Regions from separate parts of the Homo sapiens genome. Here region 2 is linked to region 1. Evidence: fine-mapped expression QTL. A gene starts in region 1. The other region holds a variant in brackets. All regions are shown on one strand. Distances are from middle to middle. Region 1 holds the start of MED25 (mediator complex subunit 25). Region 2 overlaps PTOV1 (PTOV1 extended AT-hook containing adaptor protein).

Region 1 (2,893 bases):
GTACATTTCTGTCAACAAACACGCTAGAAAGATTTTCCCAGTTGGCCGTATATTTTTCAACTTGGTTTATACAGTCTTTTGGGAAAAATTAATGAAGACTACGTTTTCTAACTTTGCTGTAGTGCTAAGAAACTCCATGGCAGTCATTAAGATTTTTTCCCTTCAGATAGTTTTCGGGTTTCATTTGTTGCACTTACATTTTTAATCCACCTGGAATGTATTTACGTTCTAAGCCAGTTTCTGGCTCCTCTCCCAGAAAACAACGCTCAGGTGTTGCTTAGCAACCCGCACTTGGTTTGGTGTTCGGCTTCTTTTCGGGGGGGAAAACAACTGCCCTCCCTTCCAAGTTGAGGACGACCTTAAAGCGTCGCCTAGTAACCTCGTTTCCGCCGATGTGATTGGATCCTTCTCGCGTCCCTCCCCTAGTCCCCACGCCCGAAAGAACAGAACCAGAAACTTAATCTAACGGTTACAAAACAAGGGCAGCGGGCCCGGCGCGGTGGCTCACGCCTGTAATCTCAGCACTTTGGGAAGCCAAGGCGGGCGAATCACTTGAGGTCAGGAGTTCGAGAACAGCCTGGCCCACAGGGTGAAACTCTTTCTCTACTAAAAATACAAAAATTAGCGGGGCGTGGTTGCGGGCACCTGTAATCCCAGCTACTCGGGAGGCTGAGGCAGGAGAATCGCTTGAACCCGGGAAGCGGAGGTTGTAGTGAGCCGAGATCGCGCCACTGCACTCCAGCCTGGGCGACAGGGCGAGACTCCCGTTTCGAAAAAACAAACAAACAAAAAACAAAACACAAAAACGAAAACAAGGGCAGCGTACGCGTTGCATAGCAACCAGGTCTCCTGCCCCTCCCTTTGAGACAAGAGGCGGACCTGGACGCCCCGCTCAAAGATGGCGGCTGACTGAGCCGCTTTCAATTTATTTAGCTTTTGACAATAATTCCGTCTAACCCATCAGGCCCCTAGAAGGGCTAACTATGCCCTTTCTGAGTCTTCCACGCGGTGGGGGCGAAGGAGGATGGAGCTAGAACGAAGCCTCAGCGCGTGCCCCGCACAAACATGGCAGCATTCCCAGCAGCCCTAAACCGCCCGACGCGAGCGCGCGCGCGGCGCAGGCGCATTTCTGCTCATTCCGCGGCGTCGGCTGCGGCTGCAGTGGTGGTGGCGGGTACCGCACGGGGTATGGTCCCCGGGTCCGAGGGCCCGGCCCGCGCCGGGAGCGTGGTGGCCGACGTGGTGTTTGTGATTGAGGGTACGGCCAACCTGGGACCCTACTTCGAGGGGCTCCGCAAGCACTACCTGCTCCCGGCCATCGAGTGAGTGCTGTTTCCGCGACTCTAACCCCGCCCTCCCACTTCAGTTTCGCACAGTTTCTTGCCTGACTCCGACCTTTCACTTCCTACCCTCACAGGTATTTTAATGGTGGTCCTCCTGCTGAGACGGACTTCGGGGGAGACGTGAGTCTAGGGACTCCTGGGCCTGAGGGAGGAGGGGCCGGGGGCCTGGACTCCTGGGTCTGAGGGAGGGAGAAAGGGCTGGGCCTGGACTCCTGAGTTTGAGGGAGGAGGGGCTGGGGGTCTGGACTCCTTGTTCTGAGGGAGGAGGGCCTGGGGGCCTGGACTCCTGGGTCTGAGGGTGGAGGCGCTGGGGCCCGGATTCCTGGGTCCGAGGGAGGAGGGAGCTAGGGGCCCAGATCCCTGGGTCTGAGGGAGGAAGGGCTGGGCGTCTGGACTGCTGGGTCTGAGAAAGGAGGAGCTGAGGCCTGGATTCCTGGGTCTGAGGGAGGAGGTGCTGGGGCCTGGGCTCCTGGGTCTGAGGGAGGAGGGGCCGGGGGCCTGGATTCCTGGGTCTGAGGGAGAAGGGGCTGGGGCCGAGATTGCTGGGTCTGAGGAAGGAGGAAGCTGAGGAGTTCCTGGTTCTGGAGGAACGGGAAGCTGGGAGCCCTGATTCCTTCTCTAAGGGAAAAGGGAATTGAGGTCCCAGATTAAAAGTTTTCTGTCCTCCCCTCCCAGTATGGGGGGACCCAGTACAGCCTCGTGGTGTTCAACACAGTGGACTGCGCTCCCGAGTCCTACGTACAATGTCACGCTCCCACCAGCAGCGCCTATGAGTTTGTCACCTGGCTCGATGGCATTAAGTGAGCTTTCCCCCACTTGGGGTGGGTTGCTGGTCCCTGTGAGGGGCCGTGAATGAGTGATGGCTTGGGGTGGTTGGTGTCCCCGTGAGAGGCTGTGAATAAGTGATGGCTTGGGGTGGTTGGTGTCCCCGTGAGGGGCTGTGAATAAGTAATGGCTTGGGGTGGTTGGGGTCCCTGCGAGGGGCCGTGAATGAGCGATGGCTTGGGTTTGAGCTGCAGGAAACATCTCATACATTAAGGGATTGAAAGGACTTTGAGGGTGATTGTGTTTTTGTCAGAAGTCACTTTTGTGGTGGCTTCTGTGTGCTCAGCAATGTTGCCATCAGTTTAGAAGTAGGAAAAACCTTCCCATTCAGGGAGGCCTGGCTGAGCTCCAGCAGCCACCTTGTACTCCCTGTGTGATTGTCCCCTTTCTGTCCTCTCTTTTTCCGTCTACCCCTGTCCTCCTTTTCCAGATGGGTACATTGTAGCCTCAGTGCAGGGGGATGGGTCAGAGCCAGGATAGATCCCTCTGTGGCTTGGGTCAGAATTTTTTTTTTTTTTTTTGAAACAGTGTCTTGCTCTGTCTCCCAGGCTTGTAGTGCAGTGGCACAGTCGTGGCTCACTGCAACCTGTACCTCCTGGGTTGAAGCGATTCTTCTGCCTCAGCCTCCCAAGTAGCTGGGATTACAGGCACACGCCACTATGCCCAGCTAATTTTTTTTTTTTTTTTTGTATTTTTAGTAGAGACAGTTTCACTGTGTTGGCCAG
Region 2 (2,893 bases), 38 kb after region 1:
AAGGGGACCCAGGTATCCAGCCAGTGGCTGTGCAGGGACTGAGTGGGGCAGGCGCGGCCATGACCTGGACCCGGGGGGCTGCCAAGGGATCTGAGAGCGGCTTCCGCAGCACTCCAGGGTTGGGCTGGTTGAGGGGTAGAGATGACATTTTCTGAGGTAGGGAGGACAGGGGAGCCGTGCTTCCTAGGGCCACCGGGAGGCTGGAGGGAGGGAATTTGTGTAAAGCGCTTGAGATGGTGACTTTAGTACCTAGTGAGTGCTGGGTGAACCCAGCTGGTGAGGCTGTTCAGGTGACTGAGATTCTGGCGCAGGGCAGGTCAGAAAGGGGGCTTGGGCTGTGAAAGATGGCAGGTGCTGGAGAGGAGGCAGGGGTGGGGTGGGAGCGAGTTGTCTGCCCAGAGGACCTGGCTCTGGGACATTCCCAGTCCCTGTTCCCTGTTGGGACAGTCTGCCTCTACCCGTCCCAGCTGCCGTTGAGCGCCCTGGGTTCCGCTAGGGCCTCCCTTCTCCCTCAGGAGACCAGGGGCAGACCAGGGCTTGTGCCTGGCATGAGGTCTCTTAAGTGACCCGTTCCCCCTTCACCCAGCACCGTTTGTTGAGGGCCTGCCATATCTGGGCCCCGAGTACCCAGTCTGTAGGGAAAGTGGACATCCATACTCACCCCCCAGGCATGGCCCTGGGAGGCTGACTGTGCATGGCTCCAGGGAGGCCAGGGACAGGGCCCTGAGCGGGTGATCCCTGGGCTGGACACCAAGGTTGAGAAGTTAGGCCGGCAGCGTGGAGGGGACAGCACTGTGGGGGTGGCCCGGTGTGGGGAGGGGACATGGGGTTTTGGGACGGTCACACCACTTCATCTAGACACCACAGCCAGGCACATCTGTCAGGCTTAGTTCTCCCATGCGCCATCCTCAAGAGGCACCAGCACTTTATCTGTTGAGCCTTTATGTGGCACCAACTGTGTGCACTATTACCCGGTTTTACAGATGATGGAGGCCCAGAAGCAGGAGGTGGCTGGTGTTAGGTCACACAGCTAGGAGGCAGCAGAACGGTGGGGCGCTGCCTGTGCTCTTAACCCCCAGGCCAAGTCACCCCATCAGGCAGTCAGGAGGGCTGGCGGCAGGGGGTGATGTGGGTGGGAGGTAGTGCCTTCTTGGCATTCTCACCGCAGCCTGGGTGCCGGGTGCCACTCTGACCTCAGCCATGGCAGGGT[C/A]GGGGGATGCCGATGGGCGCTGCACGGGCTCTCAGAGGCCCCTCACCTATGGCCATGGCCTTGACTGTGGGGGCCTCTGTCCACCGATGATCTCCCTTCATCCCCTACAGGTGGGGCGGTCCAGGGTGGTGGGGGCACAGTGGCCCCGGGCAGTGACCACAGGGTCCTGACCCGCGGCCCCCGCAGGCGGGCTGCATGCTGTTCCCCCACATCTCCCCCTGTGAGGTGCGCGTGCTCATGCTCCTGTACTCGTCCAAGAAGAAGATCTTCATGGGCCTCATCCCCTACGACCAGAGCGGCTTCGTCAGTGCCATCCGGCAGGTCATCACCACCCGCAAGCAGGTGTGCCAGCCAAGCACAGCCCCTCTGGGGACAGAGGGGGATTAGACCCCACTGCCCTGGTTGGGCAGCCAGACTTGGTGTGGGCGGAGTGTGATGCGATGGCTGGAGCAAGGAGCTGCAGGGGAGCCCGGAGGATGCCGGGCGGGTTCCCACCAGGGCTCCATGGAAAAGCGGCCACTGGGCGGCTCTGCAGGGCTGGAGGGTGGGTCTTGGCGCGGCGGCAGGGAAGCCAGCGGAGCGGGGAGCTGGGCAGGGGTTGGGATCGTCCTGCGGCTGGAAGGCCCTGCCTGGTAACCACGTGTCCTGGTCATGCCTTGCCAGTTGAGGCAGACTCTGCAGGTCCTGTGCACCAGGTGAGGGCCGGGACCTGTCTCAGGCCACTGGGGAGCCATGGGGGGCTGTGAGCAGATGAGGGGCAGGGCCTGTTCCCCTGGGACTAGAGAATGGACCCAGCTGGGGCTAACAGGCCAAGGCTCGGAGGGAGGGATGGCAGGCCCCAGGACAGACAGACAGGTTTCCCAGGAGCCTGGGCCCCTCTTCCCACCCCGTTCCCTTCCAACAGGCAGTGGGACCTGGTGGTGTCAACTCAGGCCCAGTCCAGATCGTCAACAACAAGTTTCTGGCATGGAGTGGTGTCATGGAGTGGCAGGAGGTGAGCACTCGGCAGCCCAGGGACTTGGGACCCCCAGATCCTCACGGACTGTGGCTGGGAGGGGACACTGGCATTGGGGGTCTCCAGCCCTGAGGGCTCCTCTTTGCCTCTCCCCCAAAAGCCCAGGCCTGAGCCCAACAGTCGGTCCAAGAGGTGGCTGCCATCCCACGTCTACGTGAACCAGGGGGAGATCCTGTGAGTGCTGGGCTGGGGGGTGGAGGCAGCATCCAGGGGAGCTGGGGCTTCCTGACCCTCGTCCCTTTGTGCCCCACAGGAGGACCGAGCAGTGGCCAAGGAAGCTGTACATGCAGCTCATCCCGCAGCAGCTGCTGGTGAGGGGCTGGGGCCGGGTGCTGGAGCCTGCACGCAGTAGCTCTTCCAGAGGGCGGGGCTGGGGGCAAGAGCGCCTCCCCAGGTGGCCTGAGCTGGCTGTGAGGGAGCGGAGCTGAGGGTGCTGAAGCAGGTGTGGTGGGTAGCTCCTCAGGCTTGGCTTCAAGGGGTCCCAGGCAGCCAGCTGGTGGCTGTGCAGGGACTGAGCGGGGCAGGGGCAGCCACGACCTGCACCTGGGGGGCTGCCAAGGGATCTGAGAGCGGCTTCCACAGCACTCCAGGGTTGGGCTGGTTGAGCGGTGGAGATGACGTTTCCTGAGGTAGGGAGGACAGGGGAGTCTCAGTTTGGTCCTGGGCCC

What was found. PIP is the estimated chance that this variant, and not a neighbour inherited with it, causes the effect.
Region 2: its variant is fine-mapped to the expression of MED25 in transverse colon (GTEx, PIP 0.93).

The regions. Positions count from the first base shown.
Region 1 is chr19:49,817,154-49,820,046 of GRCh38, forward strand. MED25 (mediator complex subunit 25) reads left to right here and starts at 1,136. Exons shown (of 18, transcript NM_030973.4): 1 at 1,136-1,322; 2 at 1,418-1,463; 3 at 2,019-2,143. The coding sequence starts at 1,189. RefSeq lists an enhancer at 695-1,054 and silencers at 1,092-1,258, 1,185-1,344.
Region 2 is chr19:49,855,579-49,858,471 of GRCh38, forward strand. PTOV1 (PTOV1 extended AT-hook containing adaptor protein) reads left to right here. Exons shown (of 12, transcript NM_001394010.1): 6 at 1,397-1,552; 7 at 2,115-2,204; 8 at 2,326-2,399; 9 at 2,479-2,536. PTOV1-AS2 (PTOV1 antisense RNA 2) reads right to left here. Exons shown (of 5, transcript NR_110730.1): 4 at 2,769-2,849; 5 at 887-1,494. Among named protein-coding and RNA genes, the nearest start is that of PTOV1-AS2, 2.3 kb to the right of the region's middle. RefSeq lists enhancers at 605-664, 695-744. The variant C/A (reference allele first, on the strand shown) is at 1,211.